Linked DNA regions of Homo sapiens. The protein of the gene in region 2 interacts with the protein of the main gene of each other region in a pairwise test. Each region holds a gene or a part of one and is shown on either strand. Other genes may lie near its edges.

Region 1 (4,422 bases), on a different chromosome or scaffold from region 2:
CTGAGGCAGGAGAATGGCATGAACCCGGGAGGCCCCGGAGCTTGCAGTTAGCTGAGATCATGCCACTGCACTCCAGCCTGGGCGACAGAGCAAGACTCCGTCTCAAAAAAAAAAAAAAAAGATAGGGTATCATTATGTTGCCAAGGCTGATGTCAAACTCCTGGGCTCAAGCGATCCACCTGCGTCGGTCTCCCAAAGTGCTGGAATTACAGGCCTGAGCCACCACACCTGGCCAACTTTTGTTGTTGTTTTTGTTTTTGTTTTTTGAGATGGAGTCTAGCTCTGTCGCCCAGACTGGAGTTCAGTGGCATGATCTTGGCTCCCTTTGTTTCATTTCATTTTCTAATTGTCTGATGGTACTTTGTATGAATATAGTCAATTTTTTATATTGACCTTATACCCAGCAATCTTGCTAAATAAATTTATTAATTGTAACAGTTTATAGATTATTTTCAGTTTTTAGGTATAAAACTGTCCAGAAATACAGTTTTATTTCTTTCTTTCAATTCTGTATACCTTTTATTTATGTTTCTTCCCTTATTCTACTAGCTAGAACTTCCAGCAGTGCTGACTAGAAGTGTGCCTTGTTCTTGACCTCAAAGGAGAACTTTCAACATTTTGCATCATGTTTATTATAGAGTTTTGTAGATCTCCTGTGTCAAAATTAGGAAGTTCCATTGTATTTCTAACTTTGCTGAGAAGTTTTATTAAAAATGGATGTTGGATGTGGATGCAGGTGGCTCACACCTGTAATCCCAGCACTTCGGGAGGCTGAGGTGGGAGAATCAGTTGAAGCCAGGAGTTCAAGACCAGCCTGGGCAACAAAGCAAGACACTGTCTCTACAAAAAACAAACAAAAAACCTAGCCAGGCATGGTGGTGCGTGCCTGTGATGATCCCAGCTACTTGGGAAGCTAAGGTGGGAGGATAGCTTTAGCCCAGGAGTTTGAGGCTGCAGTGAGCTATAATTGTACCAGTACACTCCACTGTAGGTGACAGAGTGAGACCCCATCTCTGGGGGGGTTGGAAAAAGAATGGATGTTGAAATTTGTCAAATGCAGCCGGGCGTGGTGGCTCACGCCTGTAATACCAGCACTTTGGGAGGCCGAGGTGGGTGGATCACGAGGTCAAGAGATCGAGACCATCCTGGCTAACACAGTGAAACCCCATCTCTACTAAAGAAATACAAAAAATTAGCCAGGCGTGGTGGCGGGCTCCTGTAATCCCAGCTACTCGGGAGGCTGAGGCAGGAGAATGGCATCAACCCGGGAGGCAGAGCTTGCAGTGAGTCAAGATCGCGCCACTGCACTCCAGCCTGGGTGACAGAGCGAGACTCCATCTCAAAAAAAAAAAAAAAAAGAAATTTGTCAAATGCCACTTCTGCATTTATTAAGATATTCATATGATCTTTCTGTTTTAATCTGTTACTGTAGAAAATTATATTGCTTTTACATATATTGTTTTTAAAGTTTGTTTTAAATAAAAGTCATCCAAGTGAGACTTATTTATGTACAGATGAGACTGTAGCAAGCCATTCCCTTCCATTGGGTCATCTTTTTTTTGCACTTCATTTTAGGCAGTTGAATTTGAATGACAATATAAGCAGGTGTTTATCATGACTGTGTGCCAGGCTCCTTCCTGAGCATGTTGTGTGTATTATCCCATAAATCATCTCAACTGACTCAGTGAGATAGCTACTGCTGTTCCTGTTTTTCAGATGAGAAAACTGATTCTGAGAGATTCTGAGTGATTTGCCCAGGTCACAGCTGGTAGGTAGCCACGCTAGGATTTATATCTGGTCTATTTGCAAAACATTTGCTCTGAAACCATACCAGTGCTTTTTACTCCATCCGCTCATCAGAATCACATGAGAAACAGTCTTATAATACTGTGCCCTAGACAGTAGCCAGACTAGTTCTCAGGGAATAGTTTACCATCCAAAATACATTTGTTAGAAAACAAGAAAGATGAAAAATAAATGAACCATCCAAGATAAGCCAGAGAAAAGCAGCAAAATAAACCCAATGAAAGTAGTGGAAGGTATAATTTAAAAAATATATATATAGAAGACAATAACTCCCATGAAACTGTAAGATTAACATCTCGTGTTTAAATTTTGTTTTTTCTGTTTTAGGCATAAAGGCATCACAAGTGGTCGGGCTCAGCTACTCTGGTTCCTACAGACTTTCTTCTTTGGGATAGCGTCTCTCACCATCTTGATTGCTTACAAACGGAAGCGCCAAAAACAAACTTGAAGTTGTCTGAAAGCTTGCTCTACACTTTTACATTCATCCTCACCCTTTTTTTTGTGGGGTAGAGGAGGTGCAGTAATTTACTCAGTGATCTTTCTACTTTCTAGAAACTGTCCTTCAAAGCTCTTTAAGACCCCCTCGTTAGTCAGTTTTTTCTCTTATATGCTCTGGTTGAGCTTGAATAGACCAGTTGTTACTTAAGAAAGAAACAGAGAAAGATTTTAGCTTTTCAATCCTATTTGGCAGAGGACTTCAGCTACCTTCTTACAGTCTTTGGCTGTGTTGGTACCCTCGTGTGCTCTGAGCTAAGCCACATACTAAACTGACTTTTTGGTTTGTATACCCTTGCTCCCGCCTTCTGATGAAAACACCTTACCCTCACAACCACCATCTTTCCTCTCCTTTCCAAAGCTCTTTCCACCTTGCTGCACTAAGATAAAGTGACACTTCCACTATATGTCAATTCCACACACATTTATTAGGTACCTGTGAGGTAGGATCCTATCCTCTCAAACTTCCATTTCTCATGCTACAGAGAAAGATAAGGAAGATGAGCAAGTGCCTGGAATGGGGCAGGCTGAGCAGTCACACAGGCATAGAGGCACGCTGAGAACCTGGAGGGGAGACTGCAGAGTGCCTTCCCTGATGCTGCAGCCGGAAGTGATCCTTCCCTCCACCTGGCCCCTGGGACACTGTGCTCTGCAGTGTGCAGGGCCTGATGGCACTGCTAGATTGCTCCTTCAGCTCAGGGCCACAGCTTAAACAGCTTTACCTTTCCCCTCAGCACCTGTCCCACTATCTTGCACACAGGTGCTCTAACCATGTTTATTGAACAAAGGAGGGAAACTGATTTCACTTTCACTTGTTCATTATCATTCCAATTTTTATGTGAAAATGGCACAACCCATTTGGGGTACCCTCACCCCAAAATAAAAGCCCAAGTCTACCTTTGACTGGTACCACCTTTTTTGTGGTTTCGTTGGTGAGAAACCTTTATCTTTTTCATACCTTTCTATTCTCAATCACTTCTCCAAAAGTGTGTCTTTCCAGCTCTGATTTATTCAAAACACAAGCATTTCTGTTTAGAGATTCTAGCCCATGGGTTATCTGGCTAGTTATTACCTCTCCTGTTCACTTAGTTATACTTTATTATTGCTCACAGGCTGGGGAGGCAGAATGACTCTGTCACCACTAGGAGCCATTAGGGCTTCTTCCCTGGAGGACTGCCTGCTTGCTTTCTGGGGACACTAGCCCTCATTTCCCTTCTGTGGTACAGTGGGGCAAATTATTTGTATTAAGCAAACATTTATGGGAAACAACCCGCTCCCGAAAACGGAGCCCCCAAGTAAAGCACAACCCTGAAAGATTATGAACTATGAATTGTCTCTGGTAGAGATAAATTTCTGCAAACATATCTCAGTCTTCCCTCTGTTTCTCTGGTGATTAAGAAGTTCCTTTTTGGTAAGGAAAAGGATTTTTAACCATAGAGTTAGGCATCATGGAAATTCAAACCAGATTTCTTAATACCTGGTCTTCCTCAAAGAGAAATAATAACAGTAATAGTGGTGCTGGGAACAATATGGCAGATTATTGAATGAAATTGATTAACTTGAATAAAATGCTGTGAATTTTCTCTAGCTGAATGCTTTTCTTGTATTTGTCAGTTTTAACATATTGATGCACATTTGATACTTTTTCTCAAATAGACTACTAGGGAACTGTTTATACACTTCAGATATCAGTTTGTTTTTCACTGATAAAGAAATGCAAAACACTGTGGTTGTCGGGTATATACGTACTATATTTTAGAACTGTCCATGTCCCACTTACCTCCTCCACATACAAGGAATCACTAGGGTGGACCTGAGTGTCTCCTTTTCATTGTAGGATTGTCTCCTTTTTGTTTCTGTTTTTATTCAACATTTGATAAAGTCTATGCACTAAGTAAGGAGTGTTCTGGCATTTTTTTAAATGCATGAAGTCCGGTATGCATCACTTAACAATGGGGATGCCTTCTGAGAAATGCACTATTAGGTGAGTGCATTGTTGTGCAGATATCATAGGGTGTACTCACAAACCAAATGGTAGAGCCGACTACACACCTAGTTTATATGATACAGTCTGTTGCCCCTAGGCTACAAACCTGTACAGCATGTAGAGTAGTACTGAAT
Region 2 (7,204 bases):
CCACAGGACATGTATAATACTTATATTCGGCCATAGAGTACCAACAGCAGTGTGCATCAGCTGAGAAATCTGAAGTCTACATCATGGATAGGATTTCAGTTACAATTACAGTGTCAGTTTCTGAAGGATTGAGCAGCTGGATGGATTTGAGGACTATGGAAAATCTTACAGTCACGACACCCATTGTCTACTGGGGTAAACAGAAACTTAACTTTGTTCAAATAAAGTTATATTTAGGTCCAAAGGTCCTAAATGTAATATTCCATAAATGAACCCCATGTAGAACAAAGCACCAAAAATAACACTATTTGTGAATTACAGCAAATATACTGTCTCACGCTGAGAACAAAGGAATGAGTGGACAGCAATTAATGGGCATTGTTGTCAGTCTTATTCTAGATACCTTTAACAGTGAATCCTTAGAATAATCCATGACCTGAGTTAGATAATTGTTTTGCTTCAAAATATTTTATCTCGGAGAAATTATTTCCATCTCATGTTAATCTCAGGATAATTCCTTTTTTTTGGTTTTTCTAACCATAAAAGGATTTAATCACCTCCTAAAAGCCACTTAAAAAATCATACTACACCAGCTACCTGTATGGCAGTATCCTGAATTCTCCAGCTTTCAACAAACTTACCACATAAAAATATCAAAGGAAATGGTGGCCAGCAATCAGGAACTCAGTTTTTGGAGTTGCTCCTGCTCCTCTGAACTGGGTCTATTCCTGGGCCAGTACTAAGCTACATTACAGTAAAGCATTTGAGTTTTAAGCACTTTCAGCAAAATCATTTACTATTGTTACAGCAACATAGATGGTAGGAAGACACAAACTTTGGAACAAAACACAAATTTTGTATTCACCAGTCAAGTGTTCTTGGACAAAACACAATCCCCGGGCCTCCATTCTCTCATTCATAAAGTGGAGAAATTTTATCATAGTGAGGGATTTATTTCCCTAAGGTAAGCTGCAAACTATACCCTCTTCACTTTTCCAGTCAATTTCTAGGCATCGTTTGCATGGCTTTCATTCCTCCTGTTCCTGGTATGTGACAATGCATGAGACACACACACACACACACACACACACACACACACACACACACACCCCAACAGGCATTCTTCTTCCCTTTCCCTTCACCTTGAGCTGCAGATGCTCCCTCATCCTCTCTCTCTTCAGCAGGTGTAGAATCCTGACTTTGAGTTGGTGATTCCACTTCGTCAGGTTGCTCATCACTGGACTCCTTGTGGTAGGGAATATGTGTGTGAGTGTGCAAAGACAAAAAGTTTTGTTATTAATACATGTCAAAAAATATATACGTATACACACAGAGAATGCATAGATGTTTCTGATCATAACTAAACCTAAAAATATTTCTCCAACTTTATTCTATATGGTTAATAAGGCTACTCTACCCACAGAAAGGTTACTGCGAGAAAAGTTACCCACAAGGACTTTGGAAGCTATTGCACTCTATGTTGGAATAGATGTGTATAATCTATGTGTCATTCACAAGCAAAGCATGAGAAAGAAGTCATGGCCAAAAGTTGGAGAACACAAGAGAAAAAAAAAATCCTCCTGAATCAATATTTCCTTCATGAGATACCAGAATCTTATTTTTTTAATCAGCATGAACTACCTTTATTAGTGTATCTATACTAATGCAACAACACTATCACAAAAATTAATTTCTGCTAATAGAAAACATCGAATTAACGTTAAAGCACTCAACAGCATAGGCCCAATTACCTCAGAAGATTCTACATAGATCATTGGTCTACGCCGATAGATTAATCTTCTTAGAAAACCCATATTTCACACTGAAAAGAGAAAATTGTGATTGGGAACATGCACTTGAGAGGACAGCTATATTCGATCACTTCCATGGCTAAATGTTAACTTGTCATTTTAATTTTGAAAATACTCTCAAAATAAGTCCCAGAGTTAAGTGCAAGTGTGTACGTTTTCTGAGTGCTTGCAAAGCCACTTATGCTCCCCAAGCTGGCAGAGTAGTCATCTTAAGGCATGTGGCAAAAGGCAGAGGACATTATTTTAAAATTTCTTTTAGACACAGAATCTCGCTCTGTTGCTCACGCTGGAATGCAGTGGCGTGATCACACTTCACTGCAGCCTCGACCTCCCGCTCACGCGATCCTCCTGCCTCGTCCGGAGTAGCTGGGACTACAGGCGCGCACCACTGCGCCCCTCTGACAGAGGACGTTTCTGATGAGGTTTAGTTTCACAAGCGGACTCCACATGAAAACACTAGTGAATCACAATTCCCGTGACTGCTGCTTTTGGCACACTCCCACTTACTAGAGCCATTCACCCCCCTCAAATCAAGTTTGGTTGGGCCACACAGCCTCTCCCAGTCCTTCCCATTGTTTCCGGACCTTCTATGGCAGAGGTGAGACCTTGCCACGCTTCTCACTCGGGTGTTTCTCACTCGGGCACTCCCCACTCCACACCGCTGGGGGGCGCTCACCAGCCCACAGCCTTCCCAGGTTCCAGGCCCCTTCTTTACCGCCATCTTCACCACCCACCTCCCGCCTCGGGGCCCCATTCAGGACTCAGGAATGTGCCCTGTGTCATGGGTTCCTACCACCTCGGGACTTTGACCCCTCCAACAGCACCCGCAGCACTCGCCTCATTTTCACCTGAGCCCCTGACCGCTTCCCCTTCATGGCCCACTTTCCTCCCTGTCCTGGCCCCTTCACGACCACAAAGCCGATGGCGGCGTCGCAGCCTGTGAGGAGAAGGAGGACGAGCTCGAGGCCCTTCTCTTTTGGAGGCCACTGAGGCCCTTCTCCCTCAAAAGCCACACACCACCAGACCGAGGGGCCCACCGAACCTGCCCGAAGCCCACTGGCTCCGCCTGAAGCCCACTGGCTCCTCCTCACCCTCACTCACACTTCAGCCCCTGGGAGGACTGGCCTGCGGATCTACCAGATGAGTCTCAGTAGAGGAAAAAAGTGTCCGGACAGCAGGAACGCGACTGCACACTCTCACAGCTCCCTGGCGTTCTCCACGTGGGCGAAGGGGCCGACGGGAAGGCACCCAGTGAACATGCGCACTGAGGCTAGCACCCAAAGGTGGGGAGGGCTGCAGTTCCCAGCCCCACACCCCACACTCCCGATTTTCATCCCCGTGAAGATAATGGAATCCGACCTCCCTCTGCTGTTTCATATGCCTCGGGTACTCAAATACCTCAAATAGTGCTCCCCTCAAAACTCATTCCATCTTCAACTGAGCCCCCCTCCCCTCCAGGGCCCTCTCTTGCTCTGGCCCTGCCATAGGGACAAGGACCATGGTGGCTGCCTGTGAAGTGAGGTAGACGACCTGCTAAAACAGAAATAGCAACATACCTCATAGCATTATACAAGACTAAGAGTCTCATAACTAAATATTAAAAATGTCTAGCATATAATTCAAAATTACTCAGAATATGAAGAACCAGGAACATAGGGCCACTGAAATAGGGAAAGACAATCAGCAGACATCACTGCTAAGATAGAGATGTTGGGATTATGTGGGAAAGCCTTTAAAGATGCTATTTTATAAACGCTTAGGCTGGGCGCGGTTGCTCATGCCTGTAATCCCAGCACTTTGGGAGGCCGAGGCGGGTGGATCTCTTGAGGTCAGGAGTTCGAGACCAGCCTGACCAACATGGTGAAACCTCGTCTTTACTAAAAATGCAAAAAATTAGCTGGGCATGGTGGCGCGCACCTGTAGTCTTAGCTACTCGGGAGTCTGAAACAGGAGAATTGCTTGAACCCAGGAGGCAGAGGTTGCAGTGAACCGAGATCACGCGACTGCACTCTGGCCTGGACAACAGTGAGACTCCGTCTAAAAAAAAAATGCTTAAACAAGCAATCATGAACACTGTTGAAACAAGTAAAAACAAAGTCCTGGCACACACACAAAAAAAGAATATTTAAAGAAGAAGCAAATGGAAATTTTAGAAGTGGAAAATATGATAACGAAGGAAAATAATTCTCCCCAAATGGATTCAATAGCAGAATGGAGACAAGAAAAGAGTTTGTGAACTCAAAGATAGAGAAATAGAAATTGTTCTGTGTGGCCAAGAGCAGTGACTTACACCAATAATCCTAGCACTTTTGCGTGCTGAAGTAAGAAGATAGATGGCTTGAGGCTAGGAGTTTCCAACCTGGGCAACATAGTGAGACCTTGTCTCTACAAAAAAACAATTAAAAATAGCTGAGTGTGATGACACATGCCTGTAGTCCTAGCTACTGTGAAGGCTGAGGCAAGAGGATCCCTTGGGCCCAGGAGTTCAAGGCTGCAGTGAGCTATGATCACACACTGCAGTCCAGCCTGGGCAACAGAGTGAGACCCTGTGTCTAAAACAAAACAAAAAGAAATTGTTGAAGTGTCTCATAACCTGATATTCAAAATGTCCAGCATATAATTCAAAATTACTCAGAATACGAAGAAGCATGAAAGTTAGGCATCTTGGCCAGGTGCAGTGGCTCATACCTGTAATCCCAGCATTTTGGGAGGCTGAGGCAGGTAGATCACGAGGTCAGGAGTTCAAGACCAGCCTGGCCAAGATGGTGAAACCCCATGTCTACCAAAAATACAAAAATTAGCTGGGTATGGTGGCGGGCACCTGTAATCCCAGCTACTCGGGAGGCTGAGGCAGAGAATTCCTTGAACCCGGGAGGCAGAGTTTGCAGTGAGCCAAGATCGTGCCACTGCACTCCAGCCTGGGTGACAGAGTGAGGCTCCATTTCAAAAAAAAAAAAGGAAGTTATGGAATTTCAAATGGAGAAAGACAGACAACTGACACCAATGCAAAGACAGAGATGTTGAGATTATCTGGGAAAGCCTTTAAAGATGCTAGTTTAAAAAAGCTATAAACATCCATGTCCAGACACAAGTTTTCAACTCCTTTGGGTAGATACCAAGAAGTACAACTACTGGACTGAATAGTAAGAGTTTGTTTAGTTTTGTAAGAAATACTGCCAAACTGCCTTTCAAATTGGCTTTACCATTTTACATTCCCACCAACAACGAATGAGAGTTCCTGTTGCTCCACGTCCTCCCCAGAATTTGTTGTTGTCAGTGATCTGGATTTTGATCATTCTAATAGCTGTGTTTTTGGTGCAGTTTTCATCAACCCTGGCTGCCCATTGGAATTGCCTGGTAGAACATTTTAAAAATGTTGATTTTCGGCTGGGCACAGTGGTTCACACTTGTTATCCCTGCACTTTGGGTGGCCGAGGTAGGTAGATCACCTGAGGTTAGGAGTTCAAGACCATCCTGGCCAACATGGTGAAACCCCATCTCTACAAAAAGACAAAAATTAGGCTGGGCGTGGTGGCTCATGCTTGTAATCCCAGAACTTTGGGAGGCTGAGGCGGGCAGATCACCAGGTTAGGAGATCGAGATGATCCTGGCTAACACGGTGAAACTCCATCTCTGCTAAAAATACAAAAAATTAGCCAGACGTGGTGGCAGGCGCCTGTAGTCCCAGCTACTTGGGAGGCTGAGGCAGGAGAATGGCATGAACCCGGGAGGTGGACCTTGCAGTGAGCCGAGATTGCGCCAGTGCACTCCAGCCTGGGCGACAGAGCAAGACTCCATCTCAAAAAAACAAAACAAAACAAAAATTAGCTGGACATGATGGCAGATGCCTGTAGTCCCAGCTACTCGGGAGGTTGAGGCAGGAGAATTGCTTGAACCTGGGAGGCAGAGGTTGCAGTGAGCCGAGATCGTGCCATTGCACTCCACCCTTGGTGACAGAGTGAGACTCCGTCTCAAAAACAAACAAACAAACAAAAAAACCACAAAGATATCGATTATCAGCCTCCACCCCAGGACAATTAAGCTGGGTCTGGGGCTTAGTCATTTATTCATGAGCATTTAAAAAGTATTTCTCAGGTTATTTAAATGCGTATCTGGTGTTGAGGATGGCTAGTTTAGAACATATATTACCAATAGGCCTTTGACGAAGTGTTCAGAGCAGTGAGAAAGGTAAGATGTAAAGCTTTTACCATCTTAAAGTCAACCAGCTTATTGGAGATGGCTTGATCAGACACTTTTGGAAGACCCTGCTTGAGATAAATCAAATATAAGCAAAGTAGTAGTAGATGTTGAAGCAGAGACAGCTAAAGGGACATTAGAGCTGCAATTTAGGGCCTTTCAGGGTTCCCCCAGATGATTAAAACTAACCAGAGGCCATAACAATCATCTTTTCTAAGACTATAGAGAGAATAAAAGCAGAAGGAAAGGGAGAAAAAAACCATAACTATTTTTTAAACCTTTCCTAAACCCTTAGCATATTTTGTAGTCCTTACTCTATCACCTGAACTAGTCTATTTTATAAAGCGGCCTGGATAACCTTTAAAGTCCTCTATGTGGGTCTCTATCAGCATTTGCCAGTCATAACTAATGGACTGAGATAGAAGACACAGAAGCTGTGCCTGTAGAAGAACATAAGACAATGACAAGAGACCAAAAGCAGGTCCATTTTGTACAGCTGCCTGGGGGTGTACATTTAGGAGGACTGCAAAAGTTAGAAGACATACCTTACTTATTAAAAGTGGTAACTAGAAAATGTGCCCCTAAGGAAAATCAGTATTTTTTTAAAGTATACCATTCAGTATTTTTAGTATATTCACAAAAGTTGTGCAACCATCAGTACTAATTCCAGAACATTTTCATCACCCCTAAAAGAAACTCTATTTTCTGTCTTTATGGATTTTCCTATTCTGGACATTTCATGTAAATGGAATTATACAATATGTAGCCTTTTGTGTCTGGCTTCTTTCACTTTGTGTAATGTTTTCAAGGTTCAACCACATTGTACCATGTATTAGTATTTCATTTTTTATTATTGCTGAATAATATTCTATTATATTGATGTACCACATTTTGTTTACCAATTCATCAGCTGATGGACATTTAGGGTCTTTCTACTTTTTTGGTCACCGTATATAATGTTGCTGTGTGTATTTGTGTGCAATTTTTTCTATGGACATATGTTTTCATTTCTCTTGAGTATACAGCTAGGAGTGGAATTGTTGGATCATAGAGTAATTCTATGTTTAACTTAAAGTGCCAAACTATTTTCTACAGTAGCTTCCCCGTTTTACATTCCCATGAGCAATGTATAAAGGTTCTTCTTTCTCTGCCTCCTCAGCAACACTTGTTATTTTCCATCTTTTTGATTATAGCCA

Evidence for each region. Proteins that work in one complex are often made in the same cells at the same time.
Region 1: the proteins of PAGE1 (region 2) and TMEM254 interact in binary tests that used the Homo sapiens proteins (3 or more experiments, as listed by UniProt).

The regions. Positions count from the first base shown.
Region 1 is NC_000010.11:80,088,664-80,093,085, forward strand, and holds the end of TMEM254 (transmembrane protein 254), read left to right. Parts: intron 1-1,716; coding exon of another isoform or gene 1,717-1,749; exon of another isoform or gene 1,750-1,768; intron 1,769-2,133; coding exon 2,134-2,254; 3' UTR 2,255-3,888; downstream 3,889-4,422.
Region 2 is NC_000023.11:49,692,957-49,700,160, forward strand, and holds the start of PAGE1 (P antigen family member 1), read right to left. Parts: upstream 3,029-7,204; 5' UTR 2,913-3,028; exon of another isoform or gene 2,903-2,912; intron 1,823-2,902; 5' UTR 1,815-1,822; coding exon 1,752-1,814; intron 1,246-1,751; coding exon 1,143-1,245; intron 1-1,142.